Linked DNA regions of Homo sapiens: regions 1 and 3 are each linked to region 2. The links come from fine-mapping of genetic effects on gene expression. A gene starts in region 2. Each other region holds a variant in brackets. All regions are shown on one strand. Distances are between the middles of the regions. Region 1 overlaps MCPH1 (microcephalin 1). Region 2 holds the start of MCPH1-DT (MCPH1 divergent transcript). Region 3 overlaps MCPH1 (microcephalin 1).

Region 1 (8,000 bases), 140 kb before region 2:
ATGAGGATCAAAATCCTAATTCTGAGTTATCACTGCCATTTTCGGGAAATTTCCTAGGCTAGCATGGACTTGCCCATGAAAGGCATCTAAGTGGCAGGGGACCAACAGCTGGGAAGTGACGCACGAGTAGAGTCCTGTCAGGTCTACACACACCACCTGAAAATGCCAGGGTGCAGGAAAGGCATTTTGGACAAAGCCTTCACGTAGGTTCTAACTTTGGCCTTCTAAAGTCAAAGCGTGCCGCCTCAAGCCACTCCAGGAGAAGGCCAAGATTCCAGTGGAACCAACTACTCATAATTTGAATCCCAAAGAGCAGCCAAAACTCCAATGTAGGTTCTTCCGCTAGGGGGGATTCAGTAAAGACACTAAACCACAAAGTTTAAGCTGGCACTTGGACCACTTAAATGTGAAACTAAATTTCTACAACTGAGGGAAGCGTTCAAGAATTCACTGCCACTGATAAAATTAAACTGGCTCGTAGGAGTCATAACCCAAACTAGAGAAGTAACCACAGTGAGTTTTGGTTAAAAAAAAAAAAAAAAATGGGGGTAAGATGACTCACTGAAACAAACAAACAAACCTAACAATAGGAAAACCTCTGCCACGGCTCCCTTCTTCCGGTGCTCCCCTGGCCCCGCATTCCCACCGGCATGGGAGCTTTTGTTCCCACCGAGTGAGTCAGTGGAGATGGGAATCTCTAGTGACTTGTGTGAACCAGTGTTGCTGCAGCTCTGAGAAATGGTGCTGCTGTGCTGTGTGTCACACACCGTCACTCAAAGGCACTCACTGTTTGATAGGAACATGTGCCCCTCTACTGATGAGGCAAGTGAGTCAGCCATTCTACGGTGGTCCAAAGTGCTACTGTGACTCTGCGCCCCTTTGATAAACAGAGAAACATCTCTGGAAATAACTTCTTCCCCTTCCAGTTGTTGAGTAAAAATTCAAGCATGCAGAAGAAAACGTCAGTTCTGAATGGCATGCTTTTTATAACTTATGGCAGTGGAGTGAAAGGGGAGAGGAAATTTCCACTAGCTTCCATTGCAAGAGACACATATGCAAGGCAAGAGGGTTAAAGAGAGGGGGCGGACCTCCAGAACTGAAACTAATTATGGGAAAATGATTCAAGTCTCTGTACTTTTACCACAAGCATTTGGAGAATCACACTGAAAGTTTACTTCCCGAATTGCTGTGGCATGCAAGTAAATTTGACTTTTCTGTATAATCTAATGGTATAAAACTAGTTCACCTTAGAGCAAGTGAGGATGGTGAGGAGGCAAACTATAAATTACAAGCAGAAATAGGCCACATGAGTTTTGTAAAACTGGCACCTATCTACACTTCCAAAAACGCATTAGCCCGAAGGCAACCACGGTACACACGGAACACGTGCATGTTGCTCTGAGAACGCTTCTTCCGAGGTACACCGTGGTTATAAATGCTGTTCACCTGAAAGAAGACAGGACTAACCAGCCAGCTTGCAAGGAACATGGCTGTTTTTCCTAGTGATTTCAGAAGTTAGGAAAACACGGAAGGGTACATCTTAATGAAGGTCTTACACAATTTATTAGTTCTTTTTGACTTACTCGCTTTCCGATAAACATATCAAATCATAGAGATTACAATTAAAGGCAATACTTGGATTGGGGGAAGGGGAGGAAGAGGGTACGTTGAGTTTATATCCTACCAAGTGCAAGCTTCTAGGCTAGTTGTTCTCAAACTTTCTCAGCTCATGGGACCCTTAGTGATTCACTATTTTTTCTCTATTTATCTCTAGGCCAACAGTTGCTTGTATTAAGCGGTTAGCTCCAAATAATTTAAGTATTTATGTTCTGACAATTTAGTAGCTATTTGAAAATACCAATATACATATAAATTGAGTTTTAAAAAAAGATCCTTTATTTTCTTTCTTAAGTAACCCCAGTGACGTATGAATGGAATATATTTGCCAGTTAGGCACACCTGGCTTCTCAAACTTTGGAATCAAATTGGACACTGCCACCTGCATTTTACGCTCTATGCTAATTTTCCTGTAGCACTTGCTTTTCACAAACAGCAACCACCAAAAACCTAGCTTTACAGAGGTACAAGCTGATACTGTTGAAACGGTGAACTGCTTTGAGCTATGAATTCTTCCAGTGGCTGACAGTCATTGAACACTGCTGGGTTGCCCTTGAATATTCAGACTGTCTCCCTTACTCCAATTTGTTTGCTGCAAGGACCCAGGGTGCCTTGGCACACAGTTTGGGAATTGTGCTAACTCATTCCACTTAATTTTCACACTAGCATAGCACAGTAGGTATTTATATACCTGTTTTACCAACCAGAAATGTGATGTTAGAAAGTATTGAGCCAGTAGTTCCTAAGGAACTGAACTGGGACTCACACCGGGTGTGTTTGATTCTCAAATCTGTACTGTAATGATGAATCTGTAATGACAATGGCTTCCAATGTCACAAATATCGCTACTTCCCCAACTCAATTCAATATGAACAAAGTTATTTTATTCAGTTTTTTATACTATGTCTCAAAAGTCAGAAACACTTGCATTGCAGTAGCTCAAAGCAGAACTAAATTCAATCGATTTCACTTTTCTCAGAGTAATCTTGTATTTATTCCAATGGGCAATGGGTAGAACTATTATTAATAGCACAAATCATTTTCTTCCTATACTTGAAGCCACTGAAATCCAACAAAATCCAATACATGACTCAGACATTTATTTATTTATTATTTATTTTTAGACTAATGGGAACCACATGAATTCTTTCTTGGTCTTCCAAGAGCAAATGCCTTTTATGCTTGATCCGGAAAGAATCGTGTTTTGGAATGTCAGATTACGAATATACATTTTAACCCTCATCAGATGGCTGGAATGGTTTAATCCACAGTTCTCTAAGATAGTTACTTTAAAATTACTTTTCCAAAGTTCATTTCATTAGGCATTATTTAGGTGCTCCTAGATGAAAACTGCAGAGACAAATAAAACCACCCATAGTAACTAGGGTCATAGTGTCACAACAAAACTTGTCAAACATTTCATTTCTAAATGTCTTTTAGTTTTTAAAAGAATTTTTGAGATATAAAACACAGGAAATGGATAAAGTATACTAACCTGAAATTTACAGCTTGATAACTTTTAAAAATATGGATTCACTCATGTAACCAGCACCGAGGTCAAGATCTAGGAAACATTTTCAGCACTCCAGAAGGCTCCCTCGTGCCACTGCTCAGTTCACAGCCTCAAACCCCTCCCACCCGGAAGACATTATTCTGACTTCTATCACCTTTAGTAAGTTCGGTCCATTCTTGAGCTTCATGGAAATGGATCATCTAGTAAGCACTCCTAGGGTGTGGCTTCTGTGACCCAACATGATGTCTGTGATGGCATTCATTTGACAGCGATCTATTATGTTATTTGTTAAAATGGAACTGCAGAGCATGAGCTCATCATACCAGTCTCCATGGAGCAACATTTAAAAATCAAAATAATAATTCCATTGTGAGAACAAAACTAGTGAGACTACTGACCAAAGAATCTGATGTTAGCAGGTTCAATCTGAAATGACATAATTGGCCTCAAAACATATTTCGAGTCTTCCTGATGTCGACAGTTCAGCAGATGTTATAGATTCAAGTCAGGAGGTAAGGGAGGCTCTTTTATGGCAAAGTGTAACTCTAAATGCTGTATCTGTGTCTTTATCTTAATGAATTCCTTCTTAGAGTGCCATTTTCTGTAAAAATTACTTTAGAATGAGGAATCCTATAGAAATAAAATATGTGCTTGCGCTTCATTTCATGGCCAAGTTGTGCATGTCGGTTCTTACTCAACCCTCTCCCCCTCCAATACATGAATGACACACCCTGAAAAAAACTTCGACAAACTCTCTCCGAAAATGACTTGGAAACATCCCTAGAGCTGGTATTTTGTAAAAAACAGTTTGACGTAACATATATTTTGTAGTAAAATACTCTCTTATTTTGGGTTAGGAGGTCTTGGAAGACATAATTACAAGTTCAGTGATTTGCCCAAAGTCATAATCACCATGTGCAGTTCACAGTCTCTCTTTCCAGCACAGTCAAACTATAATCATCACGGAACACAGTGCATGTGCTTTTAGAACATTTTTGCTGGACTGCTGGCCACAGACAGAAGTAGAACGTGTTTATGGGGTTTTCTATGGTCTTCCATAATAAACAGAGGTCCCAGCTTCACTATCAACATTTGAAATGGCAAATGGTAAATATGTTGATTCGTACTTGTTACACTTCCTACCAAATTTCAGATCAAGAGATGAAGATAAAAGTTATGTTTGGAAAACAAAAAGTTATACTATTCTCTGTCTTGCCACATCATCTAGGTATTGAATATTGTTTTGCTTTTGCTCCATTGTTTCTTATCTGAAAACATTCTACTGCTGATCAGATCTAAAACAAGGTTAAAATGCTTAAAATATATTGCAACTTTAAAGATTAAGGTGCAAAACATAGCCCCGTTAAATAATCTGTGTTTCTAATGTGAGTTATAAAAAGATTGCGCCCTTTCAGCTTCTGCAAAGCCCAGGCAGATGTACAGCTCCTTAAAGTCCATGCACACAGGGGGTTTAAATTATGTAAATAAATATGAAAATATGAAAAAACTCGCAGCTTTAAATACTTGGGAGAATGGGAACTGAACCAGAGGTCGAAGGGACAGATCATCTCATCCAATACAAGGGGTAGATTATCTTCCTAAATAGTTCAGAAAAGCACGAACTTCAGCGGTTATGAAATCATTACATTAAAAAAAGCTGCACCTACAGCTTTATGAACACAAAAATCAAAGAGGAAAGAACACATTTCTTTTCTGAAAATCCCCTGGCCTTA[T/C]ACGACAGCGCTTTTCCCTATGGTTTGGGCGGGTTTATTCCGCAGATGGGAGCTGGATGCTCCCCACGACCCACGCACATTGCCCGTCAGTGCGTTTTGCTCACAGGAGTCTCAAGTTGCTGCAGAGCACGGAAATGTGTGTTTGCATCCATTTACTCTAACCCAGGAAAGCACAGAGAGAAGGGTGTCCAGGCAGGAGACGAGGAGCAGTTCGTTGGAGAGCCATCACCCATACTGAGAAAGTAACTGTACAAACACATTTGCGGACGGCGGGTCAGTAGTGCATCTTCATGTACAGAAGATGGCTTGTGTTCCCGCTGAGTCTTCGTGTAAATTAATCCTGTGTATTTTGAGCATCTTCCAATATTATCTCAAAAATTCTATCCATTGGAATTCTTTCAACTTTTTGGGTGCTAGCAGAAAGAGGAGATAAAGAAGCAGAAAGTCTTGGCTGGGGGTGGAGTTGCGGGGGTTTCTGTCCAGAGGCAGTGGGACCCGGCAGGGCACGCACAGCCCTGCTGTGAGATTTCTCAAGCATTCCCATCAGCATTCCCAAGTCCGCTCCTCTCCCTTTTTAAAACAGAAACAACACACGCTTCCTGCCGGCCTTATAAAGGACAGCAAAAACTAGTTTGCCTGGAAAATGTCTTCTAGAAAATTATCTAAATTTAGAAAATCATCTAAGTTTCGCTAGCCTTTTCCCTTTTCTAGCCATTTAGGATAGTCATTGTGACCAAGTAAATTCAGTTTATTGGAAAAAGAAAAAAACTGCCCACTTCAGAGATGATCATGCTACCTCCTCCACAGAGCTCCACCCAGTATTTTGGCAAACCCATGTAACACAGAAAGAGACAGCAAAAACAGGGCAGAGAGGAGACGTAAAAGGCCATCAGTATCTTTATACTTCATTTCAAAAATGAAAAAGTAAGAATGTTAATGCTCCTCAGACAGCACTTTTTTTTTTTTAAGATAAGAATAGGCATATCAGTACAGCGATGAGAGTGCGGGATGGGGTGTTGGGAGACCAGGGTTTAAGTTAGTACTCTGCTACCAGCTAGCACTGTGACCCAGGCGCTAGCGTCCCTCTTACAGTGACACTCCGACAATATTACAGGGTCTAAAGCCTCCCGCCATTGCCCACCAAGCTTTGGAATGTCTATTTCTTAGAGAACTGAAACACACACACACAAGTTTTGGAATGTCTGTTTCTTAGAGAACTGAAACACACACACATACATACACACACACACAGATACACACACACACACACACACCCCTACCTCACATGTGTAGACAAATGTATGCATATATGTCTCTAGACAGATATACATAAGATTCTATTTGGCATAGAAAAACACTGAGACATTTTGTTACATTATTATTATTTTTTCTTTCAGTGTGCCTTAAATTCAGAAAGGCAAGAACGCTCTAGTTTCATTTAAAAAGGAAGTTCCTGGTATATTGTAGCCTAAATGCATCAATCTCATTCCTAGAGCTAAATTTTAACTGCTTCTATTTGTAATCATTTATCATTCAGTACTTTTTTTTTTTTTTTTTTGAGATTGAGTCTCATTCTGTCACCCAGGCTGGAGTGCAGTGGCACGATCACGGCTCACTGCAGCCTCAACCTCCTGGGCTCAAGCAATCCTCCCACCTTAGCCTCCTGAGTAGCTAGGACCACAGGCATGAGCCACCATGTCCAGCTAATTTTTAAAAAAATTTTCTGTAGAGATGGAGTCTCGCCATGTTGCCTAGGCTGGTCTTGAACTGCTGACCTCAAGTGATCCTCCTACCTTGGCCCCCTAAAGTATTGGGATTACAGGAGTGAGCCACTATGCCCGGCCCTACATTCAGTACAGTTTTAAAAAGAAAATAGTTTTATATTTTCTTCTATCTCTGTAGGGAAAACATCACTACTATCTTCTAAGCTGAGAATTTAACAAAGTATCCCAAAAAATAGACGAATGGCAGAAGTCTGCAGAATAACTCAGAGGCCACCAAGGACCTGCCGAGCGTCTCCGCATTCGCTCTGCTGCTGCAACCTCATCTCACTCCTGCATGACAACCCTGGCTTTGGTTTCCTGTCTCCAGGCCTGCCCTGCCCCAATCTACTAGAAATATTGTCTTTCTCAGAGCACTGCTTTTCCTCTCCTCTCCTCTCCAGCGCTGCTGACTGGGGGCTATAAATACAAGCTCCCCTTCCACGTGGCCCCGAGTTACCCACTAGCCTGTCTTTAGCCACTGCCCACAGCCTGGGGCCCATGAGACTTGGGGTGGGCACTGACTTTCTCTAAGCCTCATTTTTCTCCTTCATTAAAGGGGCCTCAAAGCATCCCCTGCTGTGTCAGGGAAACCCTCTGGTGCTGCTCAGAATTCACCCTCTTGTGCTGCTCGGAATTAACCCTCTGGGCCCAACTTGCTCTTCAGGACATCTCAGAGACAGGCCTTGCCTCAGGCCTTCCCACAAACCCCCAGGCCATGCCTAGGGACGTTGGCTCCAAGCTGCCTCGGGACACCCATGAGAGCCTCCTCGGCACTCTCGCAAGCACAGCTCCAAAACCTGGGTCATGAATGCCCACTAGGCTCCACCTGCCCCCTGGGGACAGCAGTCCCCATTCTTGCCCCAGGTGGATGTTCTGAGACACTGTCCCAGGGCTCCTTGGGAGATCCTGTGGGGCTTCTTACCAGCCAGCGCGGCGGTGGCCGCCTGAGTCCACGTGTGCGAACCACCCTGCGGCGCCCCTGCCTCCCGCGCCTGTTCGGCATGGCTGCGCTCTGGGACCACTGCCTAAATAAACTTCCTGCATGCCTGCCTTTGTCTCAGGCTCTGCTTTTGGGGAAACCCAAGCTAAGGCAGTGTGAGAATCTGGTGAGACAGAGGTACACACACATACACACTGAGAAGCATTTTGTCATTGTAAGCTGCTGTAACTATTCTTGCTGTGTATATATCTATATATGCAGACGTGGCCTGACAACGTCTGTTGCACTGTATTTGCTCCTCATCTTCCAGGAATCTGTGCAAGTGTCAGGTATGCATAACGTGCCATGAGGCTGCACGCTCACAGACATCTGGTAAATATACATGTGCCCTACAAGACCTCTAAAAGACACTCGTGTAAAATGTGACACCTTTT
Region 2 (8,319 bases):
CTGTAATCCCAGCACTTTGGGAGGCCGAGGTGGGCGGATCACGAGATCAGGAGATTGAGACCATCCTGGCCAACATGGTGAAACCCCGTCTTTACTAAAAATACAAAAAAAAAAATTAGCTAGGCATGGTGGCATGTGCCTGTAGTCCCAGATACTTGGAAGGCTGAGGCAGGACAATCGCTTGAACCCAGAAGGCAGAGATTGCAGTGAGCTGAGATCGCGTCACTGCACTCCAGCCTAGCGACAGAGCGAGACTCCGTCTCAAAAAAAAAAAATTACTCCCTACTTTGACTTCCACACTTCCTTTCTCCTTCTCCTGGCATTCTTCTCTCCCTCTGTCACTGGGTCCCTGCTCCCATCGCCTGTCCTTGAATACTGAACAACGCTCCTCTGTCACCACTCTTCATCCTAACCATGCCTGACATGGGACGATGTCCACACCTGTGACTTCACATGACCCCTATGGTCCTGACCCCCTAGATCATCATCTCTAGCCTTGAACACTCCAAGCTCCAGACTTGTATATCCAAATATCTAACAGATATTTTTCAGTATGCCCAAATTTACAATTTTTCCCTTAGAAACCTGTTCCTTTTCCTGTATTCCTCACTTTGCTTAATAGCACTATGCATTCAAGTAACCAGTGTAAGAATCCAGCATTTCATCCTAGGTTCCTCCTCCTCACTCAATGCCCACAGGCATTGAGTTCTGAAAGTCCTACTGTTCTAAATTCTTCACACTTTGGCTCTTTTTTCTCCCACCGCTTACCCATTGCTTCGTCCAGATTCTAAGTAAAAACTCCCAAAATAAGAAAATGCAAATGTAACTTTTTACCAATCAGAAGACTGTCATATGAATCAACAGCAAAATAAGTGTCTTACCTTTGCCCCCATATCCACAAGCTGTGTTGTAAATGTCTTTGAATAATTTTCTGTTCCATTGGATGACCACACTTCAACATAGGCCACTACATCTGAAAACAAGATATGAACATGAAACATACATTTGAAATTCCAGCATCCCCTGCCCAATAGATTTTGTTCTATTTACATTTAAGAGTAAACCGAGGCCGGCACAGTGGCTCACGCCTGTAATCCCAGCACTGTGGGAGGCGGAAGTGGGTGGATCCACGAAGTCAGGGGTTTGAGACCAGCCGGGCCAACATGGTGAAAAACCATCTCTACTAAAAGATACAAAAAATTAGCCGAGCATGGTGGCGGGCACCTGTAATCCCAGCTACTGGGAGGCTGAGGCAGGAGAATCACTTGAACCCGGGAGGCAGAGGTTGCAGTGAGCCGAGATTGCGCCATTGCACTCCAGCCTGGGTGACAGGGCGAGACCCGTTTCAAAAAAAAAAAAAGAAAAAAGTAAAACAAAAATTTACTCTACTGGCCAGGTGTGGTGGCTCATGCTGTAATTGCAGCACTCTGGAAGGCCAAGGCAGTGGGATCACTTGGGCACAGAAGTTTGAGACCAGCCTGGGCAACATAGTGAAACCCTGTCTCTAAAAAAAATTTTGTTTTTAATTAGCCAGGAATGGTGGCGAGTGGCTGTAGTCCCAGCTACTGGGTGGGAAATGGGGGTGGGTAGGGTGGAGAAGCTGAGGTGGGAGAATCCCTAGAGCCCAGGAGGTAGAAGCTGAGTTATGATCGCACCATTGCACTCCAGCCTGGGCAGCAGAGAAAGACCTTGCCTCAAAAATAAGAAAAGTAAATGAAGTTTCTTCTACTGGCTGAACAAAGTAGCTCATGCCTGTAATCCCAGCATTTTGCAAGGTGGAGGCGGGAGGATTGCTTGAGGCTAGGAATTCAAGACCAGCCTAGGCAACATAGTGAGACCCTGGCTCTACAAAAAAATAATAAATTAAAAAATAAAAATAAAAATAACCGGGCGTGGTAGTGCCTGTAGTCCCAAGTTACTCAGGAGGCTGAAGCAGAATTGCTTGAGCTATTATGTGATCACATCACTGCGCTCCAGCCTGGGCAAGAGAGTAAGACTCTGTCTCATAAATAAATTTCTACTGAAAGCCTTTTCAAAATAGCTTCAGTGGAATTTATTAAAATTTTAAGCAAAGAACAACTGTACCCATACAATACATGAGAGTTTACATTTGTAAAATTAGTTGCTTTCCCCAAATTCTTACGCTTAATTTTTCCAGTGCAGAAACCTATTTTCTGTAAAGAGACAGATGGTAAATATTTCAGGCTTTGTGGCCAATACAGTATTTGCCACAACTACTCAACTTCACGGTTGTGGCACAAACATAACCATAGGTAATATATTAACGGGCCGGCCTGTGTTCCAATAAAACTTTATTTATGGAGAAGGAAATGTGAATGTGATATAATTTTTCATTTGACCTTTTTTTAAAATCACTTAAAAATGTAAAAGACATTCTTAGCTCGTAGACCCTTACAAAAACAGGCAGCAGGCTAGATATGGCCTGGGGGGCATAGTGAGTGGACCCCTGTTCTAGTGGATATCCTCTTCTCAAAACCTGATGTTTAAAAGCATTTTCCAGGTGTGCCGTTGGTCAATGATTGGGGGTAACGCTAAAAGAAAACCAGGTTAATTTAACAAAATACTAACATTAGAAAAATAGCCACATCTGATTACAGACTTTGTATAAAGCCTCTAGTCTTTACTTTTGGCTATGAGGTTTTATGACTCCAGGCCCCACAATACAGGCCCCTTTTTTCTCACGGTCAAACTCTACAAGACACGTGTCCGCTATTCCCCTCTCCTGGGCTCTTCCAGGTGCACAGAGGGTGGGACTGCGTGCGGTATCATATACTGGTTAGGACAGCAGCTCCGGTCTAAGGCCCTGTCAGCACTGACTAGCCACACACAGGGAGAGTCACCTAAACGTCCGATGCCTTAGTTTCTGCCTGTAAAATGATATAAGAGAGTTGATAGAGCGGTTAAAAAAATCAGACAATACCATACTAGCCTAAGCACAGCGCCTGGCACACAAAGACTCCGCAGTAAAAGGCGGCTCCTATTATTGGAACAATTAGCATAGAAACTCAACTGCCGCTCCTCCAGGTGGGCCTCAGAGGGGGTCGAACAGGACCAGACCCAGGAGGGCCCCACACCAACTTCCGGAGGGCAGGACTCTGCCTGCCAGTGAGCCCCAGATCCAGGGACTAAGGCAGCAGGGGTGAAAGCAGGTAGGGGGAAAGGCGGGATTTGGGGGACAGGCAGCATGGGGGAGGGAGCAGGCAGCGGGGGATTGAGGGGAACTAGCAGCACGGGGGTTGGGGCACAAGCAGTACGGGGGAGGAAGCAGGCAGTCGGGGGTTTGGGGGGACAGGGAGCACGGGAGACGAAGCAGGCAGCCGGGGGTTTTGGGGGGACAGGCAGCGGGGGAGAGAGCAGGAGCAGGGGGTTTTGGTGGGACAGGCAGCGGGGGAGGAAGGAGGCGGCAGGGGGTCTGGGGGAGACAGGCAGCGAGGGAGGGGCGAGCGGGGCTCCTCCCACGGGATCCCCCGAGTGCGCCCGCGACGAGGGGTGCCGGTCCTCAAACTCCCGCTGCTGGAGCAGGCAGCAGGAAGTACCTCACCTTTCAGGATGGGGGCCGCCATGACAGACGGCGGGATCCGGCCAGCTGGCCTACGCGGTGCTTGCGAGCCTGGCGGCGCGCGCGGGCACTGGGCATGCGCGGGGTGAGCGCGCCGCCGTCACCGCGCTCCGCTGAATCCGCGTTTCCGGGATTTCTCTGTAGGTGAGGCGGGAGGCTGGAGGGAGCTGAGCCCCCGGGGAGGGGGCCCGATTCCGCCTCGCCGCGCCTCTGGCTGCTGGGCCGTGGGTTTTTCTCTTCTCCTGGGAGTAAGGAGGACGACGGCCCCTAACCCCTGAATTAGCCTTCTATTTCCATTAGTGACTTAGAAGCTACCCGGCGCCTCATCTGGGCTCACCTGAGCTGAGGATCAGGAAGGGGAGGGGGCACAGTCATTCCCTCGCGGACGCGGCGGGACCCCAGCGGACGGCTTTGTGCGGACTTTCGGCACCGTTATGCCCCCCTAGCCCGACACCACCTGGGGCTGGCGCGCCACGTTACTGTTCAGGGCCAGACGCACCGCCCTGCCTGCTCCGGGGAGCCGGACCTCCGATCCCGGGGATGGGGGACCCCGAGACCTCAGACCCAACGGAGGGGACTCTGATACCTCAGACCCCACGCGGGGACCCCGAGGCTTCAGACCCCCACAGGGTGACCCCGAGATCTCAGACCCCCGCAGGAGTACCTCCAGACCTCAAATCCCCAGTAAGGGAATGAAAGAGACTTCGGATCCCTGAGGCAGCAAATCCCTGTAGGGGCATCCCAGGACTCAGGTCACCGCGGGGTGAACCCAGACCTCACATTCAGGCAATCCCCAGGACGCCGATCGGCTGGCACTACCCACTGTCCCGGCCACCCCCCCTGGAGCTCAAAGGCTTGGCCCTCCAGCTGCTCCACCCTGCCGGCAACCAGGCTCAAACCTGCAGCCCGCGGATCCCCTGCCCCGGAAGCAACCAGATTCGCGGGAGGTTACCTGACTGATCCAAGGTGATACAGCTGGTAACTGATGGAGATGTTGGTAGTGAAATTCATGTACTTTTAGTTCTTTCTATGGAATCTAGAGGTAGAATACATGTAAAAGAATATCGACTACCGTCTACTCAGGTCTCTGTTTTATCTGTTTATTCATTCACTCTCAGCTTTTAATAGGATCCAATGAGCCCTCTGTGGTTCTGAAGAATTGCCTTGAGTATATGCAGCCTCAAAAAACCCACTTCCTAGGCTCAGTCTTTGATCAATATTTATCATTATCACCAGTTATTGTTCTAATAAACTCTACTCTGGAAATATGGTGTTATGGTTTACTTGGGAGTGTGAGTTCAGGGCATCATTGAAGACTCACGTACTTTTACTGAGAAAGTGACATTGATCTCTGTAGATTTTGAATTAAATGATATGATGAAGTATATAAACCAATTACTTTTGGTCAAGGTGGTAAAAAAAGTTTAGTATTTGATAGATTCTTCATCTCCACGATCACAAATATTTTCTCCTAGGATTTCTTCTAGAAATATTACTGCTTTAGGTTGTATATCAGGTCTAGGTTCTACTTTTTTTTTTTTTTTTCTCCAGGCAGTTTCTCACTCCGTTGCCCAGGCTGGAATGCAGTGGTGTAATCACAGCTCACTGCAGCCTCAACCTACTGGACTCAAAGGATAAGATCTGCTTTTAATTAATTTTTGTATACGGTATGGGATAGGGACCAAAGTTCATTTTTTTGCATGTATACATATCCAAATGTTCCAGCATCATTTATTAAAAAGTTATTTTTGTCTCTACTGCATTTCCTTTGTGCTTACATCAAAATCTGTGTTGCATATGTATGTGTTTCATTTTAGGCTTCCTATTGTGTTCCATTGAGCTATTTGTCTTTTTGCTGCCAGCACCATGCTGTTTTGATTATTGTAGCTATATAAATAAGTGATGAAATCAGATAGTTTATGTCCTACAACTTTATTTTTCAAGGTTATTTTGTATCTTCTAGATTCTTCAGATTTCCTTTTAAATCTTAGAGTCGACTTCTCATTTTGCACAAAAAAATACTGCTGGGATTTTGATTGAGATTGTGTTGACTCTACAGATGAATTTGGGGAGAATTGACATTTTAACCATATTGAATCTTCTGACCCATTAACATTTAGGTCTTTTAAAATTTCTCTGGCCAGACGCAGTGGCTCACGCCTGCCACTTTGGGAGGCCAAGGCGGGCCGATCACAAGGTCAGGAGATTGAGACCATCCTGGCTAACACAGTGAAACCCCATCTCTACTAAAAATACAAAAAATTAGCCGGGCGTGGTGGCATGCGCCTGTAGCCCCAGCTACTTGGAAGGCTGAGGCAGGAGAATGGCATGAACCCGGGAGACAGAGCTTGCAGTGAGCAGAGATCTTGCCACTGCACTCCACCTGGGGCAACAGAGCGAGACTCCATCTCAAAAAAAAAAAATATAACTGTTGTTAGATTTTAACCTAAGTATTTGTTTTTTTATTTTGTTTTTCTTTTTTTCTTCTTTTTTTTTTTTTTTTTTTTTTGAGACAGGATCTCACTCTGTCTCCCAGGCTGAAGTGCAATGGTGTGATCATGGCTCATCTTGAAGCCTCGACCCTCCTGGGATCAAGCTATCCTCCCACCTCAACCTCCTGAGTAGCTGGGACTACAAGTACACATGACCATGCCCAATTCATTTTTTAAATTCTTTGTAGAGGCGGAGTCCCACTATGTTGCCCAGGCTGGTCTTGAACTCCTGGGCTCAAGCAATCCTCCCACCTCAGCTTCCCAAAGTGTAGGGATTACAGGCATGAGCCACTGTGCAAGGTCTTGTGTTTTTTGATAATATCGTAAATGGTGATTTTTTCATTTGTTTCTGATTGTTGCTAATATATGGAAATATAGTTGATATCTGCAATTGATCTCATGTCCTGAAAACTTGCTAAATCTGCTTAATAATTTTTTGTACATTCAAAATGATGTTCTACAGGTAGTCGTATTGTCTATGTTGGAAGGAAAGCTTTTCCTCATTCAATGTCGGTCCTGTGTTTGAAGACCTGCAAATTAACTGATAACAACAGGTTAACAGGAGAAAAGACAAGGTTTAGAGTAACTCACTAAATAGAAATAAAGGTTTATAGATCCACTTAACAAAATGTGTTGGGAGATTTTGGAGTTTCAGTAGGAAGTTGTGGAAGGTTCTTTTGGGCTTTTGGATGCTTATGAGAATGGGCAATCTGTCTCTACAGTAGTGGAATTTACAGGAAACTTCCTCAGAGGGAGGCCAATGGCAGCTGTATTTTCTGGGGGCTCTGCTTTAGTGAAATAAGGGAAGTTCAAATAAAATTTCTTGATGCGTCTTTCTTAGATCAAATATTTTCACAGTAAAATAATCTTTATACCAACTTTTAGGGCCTGAATGGTCCACACATTTCTCCATCTGAAACTTCCCTAGAAATTTCATTAACAAAAAAAAGAAGCTAAGTTGATTGCTGTGGGGAGATGATTTGAGTTAGAAATTGTAAGATGAGAGATCTGTAAAAGGGGGAAAAACATAGATTAGAACAAGGAAACAAAAACAATGATTAATGTTCAGAGCAGACGATAAACCCAGTCTAGAGGGTAAGCCAGTTATGAAATTTTCTAGATGTTGGGCTCCAGCTATCTTTAGTGAGGATGGTAGTGGTAGGTAGTGTTGCCATCATGGTTATTTCCTAGAGCACAGTCTGGAAGATGCAGGTGTTCTGGGGAAATATTTGAAAGACCCACGTGTTGTGATAAGTCTTTTGAAGTTTCTGTCTAGCCATCCAGCTTCAGCTTGCAAGGCTTTGAGAAGGAATCAGTTTTAGTTCTCAGTGACGTCAAGTCAGTAGAGTGGGAGGAAAATTGGAAATACTGATTACTGACAAAATATGTAAGATGGCAGGATCCAGGTTTTGTTTTGTTTTTTGTTTTGTTTGTTTGTTTTTGAGACTGAGTATCACTCTTGTTGCCCAGGCTGGAATGCAGTGGTGCAATCTCGGCTCACTGCAACCTCCACCTCCCAGATTCAAGCGATTCTCCTGCCTCAGCCTCCCAAGTAGCTGGGATTGTGGGCTAATTTTGTATTTGTAGTAGAGATGGGGTTTCTCCATGTTGGTCATGGCTGGTCTCGAACTCCCGACCTCAGGTGATTCCCCGGCCTCGGCCTCCCAGAGTGCTGGGATTACGGGCGTGAGCCACCGTGCCTGACCGGCAGGATCCAGCTTTTAAAGAGGTAAAAAAATTGCTCAAAGACAATGAACAAGACTAGAGTCTGATAACTCACACAACTGGGTTATAGTTTGCCATTGAAACATAAAATTTCTCTGTATAATTACTACCACTGAGATCAAAGATAAACAAAGTAAGATTACTCTTGTTTACAAAATAAGTCTTGTCTCATTAAATTTGGCCTGATCATTTACATAAGTCCAGCAAGAATGATAATTGACCACAGGAGCCTTTTTAGGTTTGCTTGGCTGGAACTTTTATAAGGAATCTCAGATTAGAGTTTTAAGACTACACCTACACAGCCAGGCGTGGTGGGTCACGCCTGTAATCCCAGCACTTTGGGAGGCTGAGGCGGGTGGATCACAAGGTCAGGAGTTCAAGACCATCCTGCCTAACCCGGTGAAACCCCGTCTTTACTAAAAATACAAAAAAATTAGCCGGGCGTAGTGGCGGGTGCCTGTAGTCCCAGCTACTCGGGAGGCTGAGGCAGGAGAATGGCATGAACCTGGGCGGCAGAGTTTG
Region 3 (8,000 bases), 85 kb before region 2:
GCATTTTCAAGCCAGAAAATAAAGGTCTAGTCTTCCAAAGAGACCAGCTTGAACTGGCAAAATTTCAAGCCAATAATATCTGTTCCAAAATAAGCTATTCTTCTGTATTTCCAACACATCTCATAACATCAAGAAATGCTTCCTATAATTCCATAAAGTTCTTTTAAAAATACAAACCTATTTAGTAGTTGTAGTGGTGCCTTAAAGCTATTTTCCATATATGACTTTTTTTAAGTGAGGTGAAATTGGCATAATATACAATTAACCATTTTAAAGTGTGCAATTCAATGGCATTTTATATCATGATGCTGTGCAACCAGCTCCTCTTTCTAGTTTCAAAATGCTTTCATCACCCCAGAAAAACATCCTGTACCTGTTAAGTAATCACTCCCCATCCCTCTCTCCCCTCCATCCCTGGTAACTTCTAATTAGTTTTCTATTCTATGGATTTACCTATTCTGGATATACTGTCTGAAAGGAATTATACAACATGTGCTTTTTGTGTCTGGCTCCTTTCACTCGGTGTGTTCAACGTTCATCCAAGTTATACTTTTAATGAAGGCTAGTGATCAGCGTCAAAAATGCTTGTTGAATAATAACGATATTTAATATTTATTGAGTGTTTACTGAGTACTTTATTTAGGTGATCTTTCCATTCTTTTACAGATAAAGAAACTGCCTTACCCAAGGTTACACAGCTACGGTGTAGCAAGGTTAGCAGTGAAATCCACTGCCTTATCCATTAATCTTTTCAAAACACACAGGCCATCAGAGAATGCCCATATCAAGGTTTACAGCTATAGAAGATAAAAAATACTCTCTAGGCTATCTTTGGAAGTAGATGCTAGAAAGAATGTGGGCTATGAATTGAGGAAGAGCTGAATTCAAATTCAAAATTCACCATTTCTGGCAGGATGCAGTGGCTCACATCTGTAATCCCAGTTCCTTGGGAGGCCAAGGTCGGCGGATCACTTGAGGTCAGGAGTTTGAGACCAGCCTGGACAACACGGTGAAACTCTGTCTCTACAAAAAATAAAAATTAGCCAGGTGTGGTGGCATGCACCTGTAATCCCAGCTACTCAAGAGGCTGAGGCACAAGAATTGCTTGAGCCTGGGAGACAGATGTTGCAGTGAGCCAAGATCGTGCCACTGCACTCCAGCCTGGGCAACAGAGCGAAACTCTGTCTCAAAGAAAAAAAAAAAAAATTTACTATTTCCAAGCACTATGACCATGAGCAATTTACTGAAAGTGTTCAAGCCACAGTTTCCACAGAGGATTACTGTCTTGACTAACAGCTTGACGATGTGTAAAACACTGACAAAGTAGCTCCGCATCTCTAAATGTTCCATGTGACTAACATCATTGGGACGCTGTCTCATCTCCACCCCCGAATACGACAGAGATCCCCGGTCATATTTTGTATCCTGGGGACCTAATGCTGGGTCACAGGACTAGCAGCGTGGACCTCACCTCAAGCCTGAGCAGACCCAGACCCACTGAACCAGGATCTGCACTTCAGTAAGATCCCCCAGGTGATCCACACATTAGTAAGGTTTTGAAAAGCACTGCTCTAGCTGTCTCATAAAGAAAGGGGCAGGAAGCTAAATATCTAACACAGCCTATTCAACCAAGAAAGGGAAGATAAGCAATAAAGTACTAAAAGTATATAGTTAAGAACCCATTTCCCTTTTAGAAGACATTGACCGATAGAGACTGAATTCCAGGTGGTGAGAGGGAAAACAAGCTGCATGTTGACCTAGGCTTGAATATTCTTATGAAAAAGCTCACCTCAATTGAACACAAACATTTAAGTTCAATTTATTCTCCTTGCATTCTACCTAATCCTTTCCAGTTTTCAAAAATGAAAATGGGTGATTCTCGATGTTAAGGCTTAACTGCTCAGTAATATTCACTTTATAAATACAGCTAAGCAATGACCAGGAAAACCCAGCATGTCACCACTGTACTCACATGTGAAGTCCAAACATCTTTATAAATAACTAAGTGCGTACTTCTCTTATCAAAAGGAAAACAAAGAAATAAATATAACAAATTCCAATGCAACTAAAATAAACAGCAGAAACATCACTTCACTGTATGAAAACACAGCAGAAATTATTACCAACACAGACAATAAACCAAATATTATGGCTACTAAGAGCAATCACTATTTTTTGTTCACATTAAGGGCAAAAGCACTTGACTCTGCCATAGCCTCCCTAGAGCCACGTACCAGGAAGTAGACAATAGTATTTACATGGCAAAGCGCAGTATGCAGTCTCTGTACTACCCAAGAGTACAATAATTTAACAATAATCCTTATCAGTTAATCAATTAATTACTTAACTCAATCAATAATTCAATAATGAAAGATTATTAATTTTATAATATTAAATAATTATTATTAATATTTATTTGATAATTTAATATAAAATATTTATTTTTAAAAAAATTTTAAATTTTAATATTCTAAAAATTTAATATTAACTATTTAATATTAATATTATTAAATAATTGTTATTAATGATGAATAGCATAGAAATATGCTATTTCTATAGCATAGAAAACCTTGGCAATAATATTCAGGACACAGGCATGGACAAGGACTTCATGTCTAAAACACCAAATGCAATGGCAACAAAAGCCAAAATTGATAAATGGGATCTAATTAAACTAAAGAGCTTCTGCACAGCAAAAGAAACTACCATCAGAGTGAACAGGCAACCTACAGAATGTGAGAAAATTTTTGCAATCTACTCATCTGACAAAGGGCTAATATCCAGAATCTACAAAGAACTCTAACAAATTTACAAGAAAAAAACAACCCCATCAACAAGTGGGCGAAGGATATGAACAGACACTTCTCAAAAGAAGACATTTATGCAGCCAACAGACACATGAAAACATGCGCATCATCACTGGCCATCAGAGAAATGCAAATTAAAACCACAATGAGATACCATCACACACCAGTTAGAATGGCGATCATTAAAAAGTCAGGAAACAACAGGTGCTGGAGAGGATGTGGAGAAATAGGAACACTTTTACATTGCTAGTGGGACTGTAAACTAGTTCAACCATTGTGGAAGTCAGTGTGGCGATTCCTCAGGGATCTAGAACTAGAAATACCATTTGATCCAGCCATCCCATTACTGGGTATATACCCAAAGGACTATAAATCATGCTGCTATAAAGACACATGCACACGTGTGTTTACTGTGGCACTATTTACAATAGCAAAGACTTGGAACCAACCCAAATGTCCAACAATGATAGACTGGATTAAGAAAATGTGGCACATATACACCATGGACTACTATGCAGCCATAAAATATGATGAGTTCATGTCCTTTGTAGGGACATGGATGAAGCTGGAAACCATCATTCTCAGCAAACTATCACAAGGACAAAAAAACCAAACACCGCATGTTCTCACTCATAGGTGGGAATTGAACAATGAGAAGACATGGACACAGGAAGGGGAACATCACACACCAGGGCCTGTTGTGGGGTCGGGGGAGTGGGGAGGGATAGCATTAGGAGATATACCTAATGCTAAATGACGAGTTAATGAGTGCAGCACACCAGCATGGCACATGCATACATATGTAACAAACCTGCATGTTGTGCACATGTACCCTAGAACTTAAAGTATAATAAAAAAAAAAGAATACTAGAAAAAAAAATACATGTTCTGAGCAATGCTTTTAAAGCTAATTGTCCTTCTGTCCTAATAATAATCTTTAGCAGCTAAAAAAAAAAAAAAAAAGAAAGAAACCATAGACTCTACTTCTGTTTATCGAAGTAAGTGGTAGGTGTATTCTCCATAAGTGAGACATTATTCTGGAATTGTGTAAATTATTCACCAAACATTGCAAAGCACTCTGACTTCTCAGAAATACTTTAATTGTATGGCAAAAAAATTAAATTGTCTTTTCAACTGACTCATGATCTCAATTTAAGTTTATTTGCTAGGAGAGATTTTAAGAAATGTATGACACTATTTGGTATGTGGCCACCTTTTTGCCATACTACTTTGAAAGTTTAATAAAACCAATGCTTCAAAAGTAAAAAAAAAATTTTTTTTGATAAATTTTATTTTTTAAATTTTAAATTTTAATATTCTAAAAATTTAATATTAAGTATTTAATATTAATATTAAATAATTGTTATTAATGATTAATAGCATTATTGATATTATATTATTAATATATACAATGCTTGTTAAATTATTAACTTAGGCACAACTTCAATATTCTGGCAGAGAAACTTTCTTTCAGAAACAAGAACCCAAGAAAAAGAACTAAAAAACAGCTCTATTATGAACCTATGGCAAGCTGTTACTCTAGCTGACAAAACCGCATTACATAATTCTCATTCTCTGGTTAAGGACAGCCTAACAAATTTTCTGTATGAGATTTTCCTATGAAATTCATTTCATTTGGAATTCCTATTCAATTCATTGGAAATTAATTTTAGGAGAAAGGCATTAGGTGGATCATACATCAAAAGTATCAGGTAGCAAAATGTACAATGTCGTCAAATATAGCTTTGAAAAAAGTACAACAGTTTCCTAAAATCTAGTATTTCTTACATCAGCTCTCTTCAAAAGCTAACATTGTCCCTAAAACCGAATTCACAGAGGGTGCTTACACACAGACTGTAAGAGAAGTATGATGTTCCTTGGAAATCATTTTAACTTGGGGATAGAGTTTAGAAGCCTTGAAATAACAGATTGTTAACAATGTCCCCAAAGTCCCTGAGGAACATCTAAATGACATCTAAATGATGGACAGCTGAAGACAGTTTTT[G/C]AAGTGACAGATAAAACCAAACCATGGTTGAATTTTCCAATGAATACCTGAAGTTAAAATATTCTGTGCTATTATTTAATATTTACAGTGAGAACTGTGTGATTGAGATGTCAGAAACAAAAGTGAAAGTTCAGATGTCTGGCAGAACACTGCAAAGGTTAAAGTGCACCTTGAGGTATGGTCAAAGCTTGGAATTTGTGCTGCAGTTCAGCATGGACCAAGTTGACGTCCTGGAGGTCTCAGTCATAAGGCAAATGTTGGGGAACTGAGATCTACACTGAAGACCTGTGTTACTTCACAGTTGATCCAAGTTAAAAGAAAAGGAAAGACCAACAGTGTGATCCTTGAAGGCCATGATTTGGAAAAGGATGGGTGGCAACAAGTACCCTCTCGACTTGTTGGTTTTTAGCCTTATCCATTTAAAGTATTTGCCAAATACAGCAACTTTTTCATTAATATACATAATCTTAGTTTACTTTTTAAATTTTTTTTCCCTGATAACTCAGCCAACAGATTCAGATGCTTCCCAAGGCCACACTCAACTCACCATAATGCAACCACATCGCCAAGCACTAGGACGATGATCTGTGTTGCAGTTGGCAACACGAGAAGGCTCGAGTCACACTTCACAGTGCCCCATTCGCTGCCAACCAATCTCTCTGATGTAGCAGCAGCATTATGTCTAGGAATAACATATCAGCAATATGTCTGATAATAATCCCTAACTCAGCAAATCGCACCATTACACATAACCCTAGTGCTTCCACTGCTTTATGTACCATTGACTCTTCAACTGTCTTAGTCATTGGATTCATCCTGCTTTTTTCAAGGTCTCTGACAACATCCACCTGAAGAAATCAAACAGTGGCTTCTGTCTCCTCTTATTCACCTTCCAGCAGCACTCAGCACAGCTGAGCATCCTTCCTTCCTGAGACAGTCCCCCTTCTGACTGATGCCATGTTCCCCTGGTGTCTCCCCCAGGTTGCTAGCTAGCCGTTCCCGGGTCCCCCTGCCTCCCCCTTCCCCCTGACTTCTGCATAGGGGCACAGCCCAGAGATCAAACCTAAACTCACTGTTTTCTTCATTTCTTCATTCACACTCCCTTCCAGGTACCATGGCTGGAGTGAATAGTTAACCTTTCCTCTGAATATTTGTACATATATATAATCTGATATGTAGTATCTCTATTTGAATGTCCAGTAGGAATCTCAGACCTAATATGCCTACATCAATTTTTTATTGTACCCCAAACCTTGCACACAATCTTCTGCCCCAGAATTCCCTAACTCTGCAAATGGCACCATTATCTATAGTTAGTCGCCCCAGGAAAAAATTTGGGTGGGAGTCTTCTTGACTTCTCCATTCCCACACACCTGACGTTACAGATTCCACTAGATCTTCCTAGGAAGGGCGCCGACCTGCTCTCTCCTCTCCACCTATCAACCCCCCCTCTAGACACAGCCGCAGTCATTTTTCACCTCGATGACCCTAGCTGCCTCCTGCTTCTCACCCTGTTCTTACCTCCCTGCAATCCATTCTTTGCTGAGAGGCCACAGAGACAAAAGCTGCCACTCTGTAATTAAAATAGTCCGATGGCTTCTGCATCCCTCGTCTTGAACTACACAGCCATACTGGGGCCCTACAGCCTTCTCCAACACCTGTCCTCCTCACTCCCGGTGCCTCAGGTATTTCTCTTTCTTGCAAAGGTGCAGCCTTAGGACCCGGGCACTGCCTTTTCTGTGCCAGGTGCATTAAGTAGATTCTGTTTAGCACCTTTCGAAAATTAAAAAATATTAATGTAAAAATTTGAAAATGGTGATCAAACTTTATTTCTAATCAAGCCTGTGGTTGCATCTCAGGGTGACTCCACAGTCTTCTCCCACTAAAAAAATCACTTTGACTCTTTCAAACTTTAACATCAGTCATTCTTAGCACTCACAGGTTTCTCCACATCTTTCCAAATGTCCTCCTAGAGGGCAGCACCACAGCCCTCAATTTTACAGATGAATCACTTTTTGGTATCTGTCCTCAATCAGCAGATTATGGTCCTGGGAAGCACAGCGGCTCCAACCTGGGAAATGCGCACCTTGGGGTCTTGCCAGGAGCAGCAGACAGGGGGATGGAGGACCTAGACCGCAGCGCCTGCTTCCCATGCTCCCAGCGGCCAGAGGCCACGCTGCCGCAGCCTGCAGGAGCCTCCGCAGAGAATGAGCTCTGGCACTGCTCAGGAACCACCTCAAGTGAAAGAAGCAGACAAACTCTGTGGGTTCTATGTCTGGGCAAAACCAGAATCCATTATTTTAATCAGGAAAAAGTATAAATTAGGTGTCCTGGAGATAAATGTAAGACCATAGTCACTGCCTTAAAACAATGCCTTGACAGAGATGTGTTTCTAAGATCCACGTTCAAGTCAGACAAGCTATTTTTGCCCAGAGTCTCCATCACTAAATTCACTAATTATTTGCAGCGTCCTTCTCGGCTGCAAAAATGTTCTGTCAGGATCCAGTGAGACAGTGCATGTGAAAACACTCTGTGAAGTATAAAGTCCTTTACCAAGGTATAATCTGTAGCAGGATAAAAAGGACTTTGAAATCAAGCCGTGAAAGTTCAGAGACCCAGGCCTGAGATCCTAGTCAGCTTGCAAGTGCGAGCAATAAATGTCTGCCAGAGAGACCTGAAGGGCACCCTCAGAAACTCAGTGTCAGTGTGACACACCAAGTACAATGTCCCTGAAGATTCTTCCTAACATGAGTTATGAAGTTAATCTGCCAACTGAAAGTTAAAAAGAGAATGGTTTTTCAAGATGATCCCTTTTGAACAGACTTAGGAATGCAGGGTGATGAACTAACACCAGTGAAAAGCTGAGATTCCAGTTCTGGTTCTCCCATGAGTTATAATTTTAGGAGAGCGGCTCAGCATTTCTTTAATGTAAAATGAGAGGCGTGAACGGAATGAACTGAGTGTGTTATTCTAACAGTTCATTGATTCTATGCTCACCACTGATAAAAACATATCTCATCTGACTCACTGCTTACTAAGTTCAATGTGGATCACATTATCTCAAGAAAATAGTCATCATGAAATCATTTTTGATTAAGAAAACACTAGATTATCTGTTGATAGTTAGCGGCCTTGACATTTTGTTGTAAAGCTGATTTAGCTTTTAAGCCCTACACTTGTATTTATAA

What was found.
Region 1: its variant is fine-mapped to the expression of MCPH1-DT in lung (TOPMed, PIP 0.98).
Region 3: its variant is fine-mapped to the expression of MCPH1-DT in whole blood (TOPMed, PIP 0.99).

The regions. Positions count from the first base shown.
Region 1 is chr8:6,540,429-6,548,428 of GRCh38, reverse strand. The region is part of intron 12 of MCPH1 (microcephalin 1); the gene reads right to left. All of the region lies in intron 1 of ANGPT2 (angiopoietin 2), which reads left to right. Among named protein-coding and RNA genes, the nearest start is that of ANGPT2, 19 kb to the left of the region's middle. The variant T/C (reference allele first, on the strand shown) is at 4,864.
Region 2 is chr8:6,401,933-6,410,251 of GRCh38, reverse strand. MCPH1-DT (MCPH1 divergent transcript) reads left to right here and starts at 3,704. Exons shown (of 2, transcript NR_040040.1): 1 at 3,704-4,546; 2 at 5,132-6,696. MCPH1 (microcephalin 1) reads right to left here and starts at 3,625. Exons shown (of 14, transcript NM_024596.5): 1 at 3,563-3,625; 2 at 882-973. The coding sequence starts at 3,584. RefSeq lists silencers at 3,364-3,543, 3,804-3,883.
Region 3 is chr8:6,487,147-6,495,146 of GRCh38, reverse strand. All of the region lies in intron 11 of MCPH1 (microcephalin 1), which reads right to left. Among named protein-coding and RNA genes, the nearest start is that of ANGPT2, 72 kb to the left of the region's middle. The variant G/C (reference allele first, on the strand shown) is at 4,813.